Linked DNA regions of Homo sapiens. The protein of the gene in region 2 purifies or fractionates together with the protein of the main gene of each other region. This does not show direct contact. Each region holds a gene or a part of one and is shown on either strand. Other genes may lie near its edges. The genes, in order: THUMPD3, CARS1 and MCFD2.

The links.
Region 1: the proteins of CARS1 (region 2) and THUMPD3 fractionate together in Homo sapiens (co-fractionation; one large-scale study listed by BioGRID). This does not show direct contact.
Region 3: the proteins of CARS1 (region 2) and MCFD2 fractionate together in Homo sapiens (co-fractionation; one large-scale study listed by BioGRID). This does not show direct contact.

Annotation. Positions count from the first base shown.
Region 1 is NC_000003.12:9,372,944-9,376,594, reverse strand, and holds part of THUMPD3 (tRNA (guanine(6)-N(2))-methyltransferase THUMP3), read right to left. Parts: intron 2,080-3,651; coding exon 1,949-2,079; intron 1-1,948. UniProt on the Homo sapiens protein: Catalytic subunit of the THUMPD3-TRM112 methyltransferase complex, that specifically mediates the S-adenosyl-L-methionine-dependent N(2)-methylation of guanosine nucleotide at position 6 (m2G6) in tRNAs.
Region 2 is NC_000011.10:3,026,335-3,029,985, forward strand, and holds part of CARS1 (cysteine--tRNA ligase, cytoplasmic), read right to left. Parts: exon of another isoform or gene 3,110-3,651; coding exon 2,969-3,109; intron 2,751-2,968; coding exon 2,662-2,750; intron 464-2,661; coding exon 342-463; intron 1-341. UniProt on the Homo sapiens protein: Catalyzes the ATP-dependent ligation of cysteine to tRNA(Cys).
Region 3 is NC_000002.12:46,905,807-46,909,457, forward strand, and holds part of MCFD2 (multiple coagulation factor deficiency protein 2 isoform A precursor), read right to left. Parts: intron 3,372-3,651; 5' UTR 3,366-3,371; coding exon 3,217-3,365; intron 2,873-3,216; exon of another isoform or gene 2,164-2,872; coding exon 2,004-2,163; exon of another isoform or gene 1,078-2,003; intron 1-1,077. UniProt on the Homo sapiens protein: The MCFD2-LMAN1 complex forms a specific cargo receptor for the ER-to-Golgi transport of selected proteins. Plays a role in the secretion of coagulation factors.

The DNA.
Region 1 (3,651 bases), on a different chromosome or scaffold from region 2:
CTCTATCTCCTTGCTCCTACTCCTCAACACATGGCAATAGAATCCTTGGCAACCCTCTTGAGGGGGTAAGCACCCTGTACTCCAAGCCATTCCTGATGGTCAGGGGTGAATATCTGACCAAAACAATGTCCATCAGATCCTCTCTTCCAGGAATTTGGAACAAAGAGCTAAAAGCCCTAGGCAGTGTGGGTTGGTCGTTTGGAATTGGAAATACATAAATTTAGATGAGAAAGCATGTAGATGAGAAGAGACAAGAGTCCACAGGCTCTAAGGGGAGATAAAAATGGCTGCCTACATTTCTGGTGGTTTTCCAAGATGTGGTTCCTACCCTTCTTGAGAACCAACATTCAGTTTTTCTGTAGAATCCCCAAGATTTCTCTTTATCTTTCCAATAAACCCCTCTCTGGCACAATTATCACTTTTTTATCCTAAACTTGATTACTTAGGTTTTAAATATTTGCACCCAAAATAACACCCTCTCTGTATCCCTGGTTTCTACCATATGCCTGGCAGTAGATAATGCATATTTGTTAAATTAATGAAGACTAGAAGATTTTCCTTTATCAAATGGGCCCAATTTTCTATTATCGTCATTGAATTAATATGTTAGGAAGATAAAAGATTGGAAGAGAAGGAATACAGTCGTGTACTGCATGACAATCTTCCAATCAATGGTGGACCAAATATATGAATGCAGTAATTATAATACCATATTTTGCCCTATCCTTTCTATGTTTAGATACACAAATACCACTGCGTTACAACTGACTACAATATTCAGTACAATAACATGCTGTACAGGTTTGTAGCCTAGGAGCAATAGGAGATACCACATAGCCCAGGTGTGTAGTAGGCTACACCATCTAGATTTGTGTAGGTACACTCCATGAGGTTCGCACAATGATGAAATTGCGTGATGACACATTTTTCAGAATGTATCCCTGTCATTAAGTGATGCATGACTGGACTTAACTACCAGGACATACCAGGCACTGTATATAATAGGTATTTTGCATATGCTTCAGCATTTAATCCTCACTAATAATCCTTTAAGTCTCACATCAAATCCATTTTGCCATCTGGAAAACAGAAGCTTTAGAGAAAATAAACATTTTCAAGTGGTGGAAAGAAGCACCCAATAAAAGAGAGAAGGGCAAAGGAGAAGGAAAGATAGGTCGTGTACTCTGAAAAGCAAAAAATTCTAGGATGATTCCTGAGTTGCTGTGAGTATAAAGCTTAAAAATATAAGTAAAAGCTCTTTCTGTTCATTTACACGTTATACACATAAAAATCTCTGCTTTCATCTTTTTCACTGCACAGAAATGAAACAGCAAAATTTACTCTTATCTCCCAACACACATATCCTTGCTAAACAGAAATGTGGTAACCTCATTCAAGAGGCAGGTGAAAACTATTACTCTCATTTTAAAATCAAGAAAACCGGGCGCGGTGGCTTACACCTGTAATCCCAGCACTTTGGGAGGCCGAGGCGGGTGGATCACCTGAGGTCAGGTATTTGAGACCAGCCTCGCCAACATAGTGAAATGTCGTCTCTATTAAAAAAATACAAAAATTATCTGGGCGTGGTGGCAGGCACCTGTAATCCCAGCTATTCGGCTGAGACAGGAGAATCGCTTGAACCCGGGAGGCAGAGGTTACAGTGAGCTGAGATCTCGCCACTGCAGTCCAGTCTGGGCGACAGAGTGAGACTTTGTCTCAAAAAAAGAAATAAAGAAAACTGAGCCACCTATTAAGCAGTATTTTCAGATCACAAGGAGTCAATATTGGATAGAAGGGAAAGAAATAGATCATTAGCTTTCCATTCTATTCTTTATCCACTCTATTCCAACACAGTACCTCAAACACACATACACACAAATCAGTATTTTGAAGGGAACATTCAAACCAAGGTGCCACTTTAAGCTGGATGGCAAACTCATTTTCTTACCTGAGCATCCCATAGGCAAGAGTTGATCTAAGAGTTGTAGGTCCAAAATGTGTTATATTTCTTCGGTGGAGACTCTCTTCAGTCAATGCAATGCCCACAATGACTTCATTATCATGGATGTTCAAAAGAACCTATAGCAAAGTGGAACAAGACAAAATAGTTTTAGGATTGTTCAAACTGCGCTTAGTAATAAGACTTTTCTGACCTGGGCCGGTTCACCCCTCCTTAGGCAACCTGTTGGTCCCCTACTCCTGGGAGGTCACCATATTGATGCCAAACTTAGTGCAGACACCTGATTGGCATAGCGCACCACAGCCCAGAACTGTCTAAAAAGTTAAGACATTTAAAAAATACATATTAAAAAACCTCTAAGCCTTCAAAATATGTTTGTGTTATAAAAATTGGGGTGAAATCTGGTTGTAGCCAATAAACATAGTGAATTAAAAGAAAATAATAGATATTAAAATGAACGAAAAAAACTATATACTATATGATTTCATTTATATGAAGTTCAAAAATTGGCAAAACGAATTTTTGGTGGTAGCAGTCAGATTAGTGATTGCCTTGAGTGGGTACTGACTGGGAAAGGGCAAGGGGAGCCCGAGGTACTGGAAATAGTTTGTATCTCTATCTGGATGCTGTTTACACATCGTGTATATAAGTAAAAACTTACTGAAAACTTAAGATTTGTGTACTTAAGGGGTGCAAAGTGTATCTCAACAAAAAAGTTTTAAAAATTGGTAAAGTCTCAAATAAAAAGTCTTATTACACTGAGTGCAGTGGCACAGGCCCACAGTCCCAGCTACTCGGGAGGCTGAGGTGGGAGGACAGCCTGAGCCTGGGAGGTCAAGGCTTTAGTGAGCCATGATTGCACCACTGCACTCCAGTCTGGGTGATACAGCGAGACCCTGTCTCAAAAGTGAACTAAACTAAACCAAAATGTTCCCCAATCTTTCACTGAAAGACTTCCTGAGCTTAACCACAGCAGAAGCACAGCTGATACTCATACAGCACTTCCTAATGCAAAGCACTATTCTACACATTTTACATACATGGCCTCATCTCATATTCACATCCCCTAAGCTAGGTATTATTCCCTTTATAAATGAGGATACTGAGGCACAAAGACAGCTCCTCAGGAATTCCCTTTTTGAGACAGGGTCTCACTCTGTCGCCCAGGATTGAGTGCAGTGGCATGATCACAGATCACTGTGGCCTGGACTTCCTGGGCTCAAGCAATCTCTTACTTCAGCCTCCCAAGTACCTGGGACTATAGGTGTCTGTCATCATACTCAGCTAATTTTTTTTTTATTTTTTGTAGAGACAGGGTCTCCCTATGTCGCCTAGGCTGGTCTAGAACTCCTGGCCTGAAACAATCCTCCAATCTTGACCTCCCAAAGTGCTGGGATTACAGGTGTGTGTCACCACACCCAGCCTCCTCTGGGATTTAAACCAATGCAGCACGGCTCCAGAAACTCCTCTGAATCACCTTGCTAACTTTTAGACATCACTGTTCTGGTTAACCTATTCATTTTATTTTTTAAAATATTTATTTTATTTTTAGTGGAGACAGGGTCTCACTATTTTGCCCAGGCTGGTCTCAAATTCTTGGGCTCAAGCGATCTGCCTGCCAAGGCCTCCCAAAGTACTGGAATTACAGGTGTGAGCCACGTATTCATTTGCAAGGCAGTGTATGAGGAAAA
Region 2 (3,651 bases):
GAAGATCTGGAACATTCCCAATGCAAAGAAAAGGTAAACGTCTAAGGTGACGAGCATCCTAACTACCCCGATCATCACACACGGTGTGCATGTATTAAGACATCACATGTTCCCCATAAATTGCATAATTATTATATATCCATTAAAAAAACACATGTCATGGTCTTAGAGCTGCACAATGTTGAGTGCAGAAAACTCCTAAAATTCCTTCAGGTGAAAAAGCACTGTTCCCAAGAGTCTGAGGGGTGGGCTCAGCGCAGCCCCCGTGGCCTGCAAAGTCAACACAACCCAGGCTGGGCCAGGAGGGAGAGCCCACATGCTCTCAGGCATGCCCTCCTCACCTTCCCCTTCTTGAAGGGCTTTCTGATCTCCAACGGCCTCAGGCACCAGCTTCCCATAGGAGTGCTTCTCGCTAGAAGCAAACTTCGCTGTATCAAAGTAGACAGACCCATTGGAGACATAGCTGGAAAACAGAAAAGGAATTGGGTGGGTGCATCTAACAGACCCGAAAGTGTGTCAGCAGGATGACAGTAACAAAATAAAGCAGGGCTATAAAAGTGCGAAATCTGTGGCCTATCTACTCTCTGTGGTGGCCACTGAAAACCGTATCAGCTGTTTGGACTGAGTGGGACACCAGGGCCCATCCCGCTGCGGAGGCAGCCTGCCTGCCCTGGGCAGCTCGTCCCTCTGCCTGGCGTCCTGTGACCCATGCAGCTCCCACCCTGCCTTGCTCAGGGCTGCTGCCGTCCTCATTCTTGTGTGGCCTCACCTTTCCCTGAATGTCCACACTCTACCCATTAGCTTAGCTGAGGCTCTTGGCCTCCAAGAAGCACTCTAGATTACTCCAGTCTGGAATGACCTGTCCTCTCTGAGCTTCGGCTTGCCCATGCCTCTCGGCTTGGCACAGGCTCTTATGCTGCCCCACAGTAGTTTGTGTGAAGTGGGGAGAGAAGCAGCGCTACTGCTTAAGAGTCTGCCCCGTTCCTGGCACTGTCACAACCTCTTGTTTCTCTTTCATCCAGCCTGTGTGGTTCCTGTGGGAGGGAAGCAATCTGAGGCTGGACACAGTGGGTCTCTGGGAGCAGGCGCACGGTACAGTGCTGAGCACTACTGTGGGCGGCAAGCCACCCAGGTGCCGAGGCAAGAGACCGAGGGCACGAGCTGTTCCAGTATAATAAAATATAAAATAAGAATAGTTATACCAGATATAGATCTTAGATATGATTATATATGAATATCATTAATCATTAGTTTGTAGCAATTACTCTTTATTCCAATATTATAATAATCCTCGCTCTATAATCATAATCTAGGAAAAACCAGGCCATACAGAGATAGCAGCTGAGGGGACATAGTGAGGAGTGACCAGAAGACAAGAGTGTGAACCTCCTGTTATGCCCGGACACGGCCACCAGAAGGGTTCCTTGGTCTAGTGGTAACGCCAGCGTCTGGGAGGATGCCCGTTGCCAAGCGGACTGTGGTCTAGCGGTAGCGTAAGTGTCAAGGAAAAACACCCGCTACTTAGCAGACCGGGAAAGGGAGTCTCCCTTGCCCCGCGGGAGTCTGGAGAAGACTCTGCTCCTCCACCTCTTGTGGAGGGCCTGACATGAGTCAGGCTCGCCCGCAGTTATCCGGAGGCCTAACCGTCTCCCTGTGATGCTGTGCTTCAGCGGTCACGCTCCTAGTCCTCCTTCATGTTCCATCCTGTACACCTGGCTCTACCTTCTAGATAGCAGTAGCAAATTAGTGAAAGTACTAAAAGTCTCTGATATGCAGAAATAATGGCGTAAGCTGCCTCTCTCTGTCTCCTCTCTCTCTCTGCCTTGGCTGCCAGGCAGGGAAGGGCCCCCTGTCCAGTGGACACGTGACCCACGTGGCCTTACCTATCATTGAAGATGGCTCACTCTCCTTAACCTACCCCTTTGTCTTGTATCCAATAAATATCAGTGCAGCCTGGCATTCGGGGCCACTACCGGTCTCCGCGTCTTGGTGGTAGTGGTCCCCCGGGCCCAGCTGTCTTCTCTTTTATCTCTTTGTCTTGTGTCTTTATTTCTACAATCTCTCATCTCCACACATGGGGAGAAAAACCCACCGACCCTGTGGGGCTGGTCCCTACACACTACAGACAGATAACCGGGTTCCTGTCTGCATTTCCATTTGTTGGCCATTTCTGAAAATGCTTACTTTGGAGATTGAGACAATACGGGCCAGGGAAGTGTATGATGGATTTGCCAACAAAAAGTCACTAAAATCATAGCCAAGCGATAGATGCTGATGAAATGCATCCTCCTTCGGGATATGACACCAGGACTAGCACTCTCAAAATGTCTACGCAATGGCACTGATGTCTGTGAAGGCCCAGCAGTATTCGCACTCACCATTATGCAGCTCTGGGGCCCCATGACTGATGGTCTTGGCTGCCGAGCTTCCCAGCAGATTCTGGGTTAGGTTCTCACCATGGCCCCCAGGACAGTGCAGACCCATGCTCCTCAGCCCCTGGGTGGGCCCAGAGTTGTAGGAGGAAGTCTGCTGGGACTTCTAGCTACGCAGCCCCAGAACACCTGCTCCTCTGCTTCCCAAACTCAGGCTCAGAGCTGGGGAGCTCCTCCCTGTGCGATGTTCTGCAGCCCTTCCCTCCCTAGGGAAGGCCCTTGTGCTTACCCGTAACCGTTGTCCACAATCTTCTGGACAAAGTTCACAATTTCTGGCACATACTCACTAACCCGGGTTAAGACATCTGGAGGGAGAACCTGTGCAAGACATGAGAATGTCCTGGGATTTTCCCTTCTGAAAACCACGCGCTCCATAAAAACGTTCCCAATTCATAAAACGAAAAGCCCATTATGCCCCTCAACTCAAGTTCAATGTTGACTTGGCCGCTTAATTGAGCTGGCCTTGCCAAAACAGGAATTTAGAAATCAGGGCCCTTAGCGCAAGAGAGCCAGCACAAGACAATCGTGACACTTACATTCAGAGCTTCCATGTCTCTGTGGAAGTCCCCCTCCCAGAACTTGGGCAGCTTGGAGAAGATGGAATTGTCAGTGACATCACAGCCAAGTGTAGAATCCAGCCAGTCAGAGAGCAAATCCTTGGCTTCTTCCAGCAACACCTGAAGAGAAAGAAACAAAAATCCAGCAGCGGGCCACACACTTCACATGAGAACATCTCGTGCAGCTGGTGTGAGCCCATCAGTGCCCTGAATTCAAAGGTGCTGACCTTGACCTGTGAAGAGCCACCGTCTCCTAGGGAGACTGTGATGCTTACACAACTGGCTCGGCAGGGACAAATACAAGACTCTACAAATGGGCAGGTCTCACATGAACTCAGAGGAGCAAAGCCAAGGGGACTGTGGGTGCAGAGGCAAAAAGAGGTGGGAGGGCCGAGGTGGGCCTGGTGAGCATGTGCAGCCTACCTGGGCCGTGCAGGGCAGGGTTATGGGCAGAGGCTGGGCAGGAGCACACAGTGTGTCACCTACAGCACAACCCCTTGGTGCATTCAGGAAAAGATTCATGACGGACACAGCCAGAGGTTAGGAGAGATAGGCAGGGCACTGGTCCCAGAGGTCTCAAAAGCCCCATCTCCCTGACGCCATTGACTGAAGATGCCATCCCCACTTGACACACCATGGAATGGGAGTAAAAACCACCAATC
Region 3 (3,651 bases), on a different chromosome or scaffold from region 2:
AGAGAGAATATGTATTATTGAGTCAATTTATCATAATCCAGTTTAGAAATTACATTTGCCAGTTAAAAGAAGGCCCTTCAAAATAGGCTTTTGCTTATTTGTTTCATTATGGCTCATTCTTCTTTAATTGGAAAAGTGCCAGTCCTCCTGAGGGTCAGCTCTGTGCACAAATTTGCCTGATAAAATAGAAACAGTGACGAATTGGACAACAAGTTGGCATCAAAACAAGAGGAAGAAGGCACTGCCGATGAGCAGAACCTGTTATGATCTTTGAGGAGAAAGTATTTCCCATGCTCCAAGAGCAGGGTTAGTGGGCTGAGGCTGTTCACATCCTTGGCTGGTTCTTCCTTTGCCACATCTCCCACATTCACCATTCCCTCTCCTGTCACCACCACTATCCTCATCTGCCAGGACTGCTGACCCCTAATTCCTCCGCCTAACACTAGTCTCTCCTCATGTCCTTCAGTCTGTCTCCCACAACCAAGGATCTTCCCTAAACAATGCCATTCTCCTGTGCAAAATCATTCATGCTCCCTGCTGCCTTCAAACCTCACCTGCACTCCTAGCAGCGAATGTAATCCCACTCACCTGGCTAACTTTGCCTTGCTTCCTCTCTATAGAGGGCAGTGTGGCAGAAGGGGAATGACATTAAATGTGGAGGCACGAGGATTTTTTTTTTTTTTTTTTTTTTTTTTTTGAGACAGGGTCTGACTCTGTCACCCAGGCTGGAGTCCAGTAGCACGATCACAGCTCACTGCAGCCTCGACCTCCCAGGCTCAGGTGTTCCTCCCCACTACCCTCCCACCCCGTCACCCCAGCAGCTGGGATTACAGGCAAGCATCACTATGTCCAGCTAATTTTTGTAGAGACGGGATATCACCATGCTGCCCAGGTTGGTCTTGAACTCCTGGGCTCAAGCGATCCTCCTGCCTCAACCTCCCAAAGTGCTGGGATAATAGGCATGAGCCACTGTGCTTAGCCTGGCACAAGATCTTGATTTCAGTGTCTTCACCTAGAAAATGGGAGGGTTTTGTTTGTTTTTTGTTTTCTGAGACAGGATCTCGCTCTATTGCCCAGGCTGGAATTCAGTGGCAACATCGCAGCTTGCCACAGCCTCAACCTCTCAGGTTCAAGTGATCCTCCTACTTCAGCATCATGAGTAGCTGGGACTACAGGCATGCACCACTGAAAATGGAAGTATTAACAATGCCTGCCACTGCCTACTCAAGATGTTGCAAAGATCCAACGAGATCTCTAACCTACTTGAAAGGGCTTCAGAAACTTTGGAGCACCATACAGTATCACACAAGCCCTCAATTACTGCCACGTCCCTGAATCCCTTGGTGTCAATTCACCATTAAACAACTTCTCCCTTGCTCTGCAGTTTGAATACGGTCTGTCTTTTAGGCACTGATTCTCATACTCTGGTGTGTAACAGAAATGCCTGTAGCACTTAAAGATACAAATGCCCAGCCCTGGGACTTCTGCCTCAGCAAGTTATCCTTTGCGGGAAGGATCGTTGGACAGAAAGAGGCAGAACACAGAAGAGAAAGAAGCAGCAGCACCTTTTTTTTTCTTTTCTTTTTTTCTCTTTTTGAGACAAGGCCTCACTCTGTTGCCCAGGCTGAAGTGCGGTGGCATGATTATGGCTCACTATAGCCTCGACATCCTGGACTCAAGCAATCCTCCCACCTTAGCCTCCTGAGTACGTAGAACTACGGGCATGCACTACCAGGCCTGGCTAATTTTTTAATTTTTGTTTTGTTTGTTTTGTAGAGACAGGGTCTCACTATATTGCCAAGGCTGGTCTTGAACTCCTGGCTCAAGTGATCCTTCCACTTTGGCCTCCCAAAGTGCTGGGATTACAGATGCGAGCCATCATGCCCAGTGGAGAAGCAGCACTCTTGGCACATAAGGACAACACAAGTCAACAAGACTGGGGACCAAATTAACAAAGGGAAGCCTTTCTGTGATACAGTCCCCCAAGCCACTGCCAGACCTACCTCCTTATGGACATGAGTGATGGCTGTGGAGAGTTCTAAGCCATCAAGCAAATTATTGCCATCATAATCATGCATTTTGAAGTAATGGAGCTGCAATTCTTGTGGCGACATCTCCGCCTCTGGTTTGTTGATGACACCTTCTAGATGCTCCATGATATGCCTAAAAATCAACAGTCAGGTTCAGGCCAATTGACAGATACTGGGATCATGCTGAAATCTTAAGGACTCTGAAAAGTTCAAGATCTTAAACTTCCTCCAGCTCAGAAAAACAAACACCAGCAGTGGCAGACCACACTCAAGGATTACACAGAGATAGACAAGGCCTTGAGAGGAGCAGGAAAAGTCAAATAGACCATCTGTTATGCTGGCAGGATTAGGGTATTCTTTCCTCTTTATTATTAGAATTTTGTTATAACATTTTCAGGCCATCAATTTAAAAATATGTCCTTTAAAACTTTTTTTTTTTTTTGAGACAGGGTCTCACTCTGCCACCCAGGCTGGAGTGCAGGAGCGTGATCTTGGCTCATTGTAGCCTCAACTTCCCAAGCTCAGTTGATTCTCCCACTTCAGCCCCCCAAGTAGCTGGGACCATAGGCATGTACTGCCACATCCAGCTAATTTTTTGCAATTTTTTAGTAGAGACAGGTTTTCCCTATATTGCCTAGGCTGGTCTCGAATTCCTGGGCTCAAGTAATCCACCTGCCTCAGCCTCCCAAAGCACTGGGATTACAGGTGTGAGCCACTGCACCCAGCCTTAAAAACAAAGGATAACCGAGTATAATGCGTGAGGCTAACTGGCCCAAGACAAAAGCTGCAACAAATGATTCAATGTTTGAATGTGTTGATTTAAAAAAGGTCTTGTTATAGTCAAGAAACCTTAGCTATTTTCTGGATTCTGCTACTATGACTGTGTATGTGTACCTGTGTGTCTATTTGTATGTGTGTGTGTCTGTCTGTGGTGAAAAAAAGGAGAGACCGGATTCAGACAAGTAATGTGCCCCATTTGGGCCTAAAGATCTTCCACCTGTGATACAATGATGAAAAAAGAATACCTGACTTATAGGTGGCAATAAGGAATAAGAATCATCCTTGAAGAATGTCAAGGAGCCATAGAAACAGGAAGAAGGAAAGGAGGACTGAGCATGCCCTTGCCGCTGGCTCAGCTGCAGATGATGGGGAGGCCACTGGACCACAGCCCGGGCTGAATACGTACTCTTGGTCGTGCACTGTGTTCTTATCCAGGCCCATGCTGCCGGGTTGGGAGAAGCTGGCTGCAGGCTCCTCAGCCCTGGCGCCTGGGGCACAAAAGGCCCAGAGCAGGCCACACAGGAAGGGGGTTCTGAGCAGGGATCTCATGGTCATCAATATCTGTGAGATGGGAAACACAGAAGAGGAAGGCAGAGCATCAGAGCAAAGGTTTCGTTCAGGGCTTGACATGGTATGATCCTGGGAAACCTGATGAAGCAGTAAGGTTAGGAAGAGAGCTTGTCAAACACGGCCCAATGCCAGCTCTGCTTTGAGACTGTGGGATGACCCTGGGCACTCCAAGTCACTCAAATGGCAGGGGAAGGCTCACGAGGTTTCCTGAAGTGCCTGCAGAGTGCCAAGCAACACGTGAAAGCTTGAAGGGACTGGAAGATTATTCTTG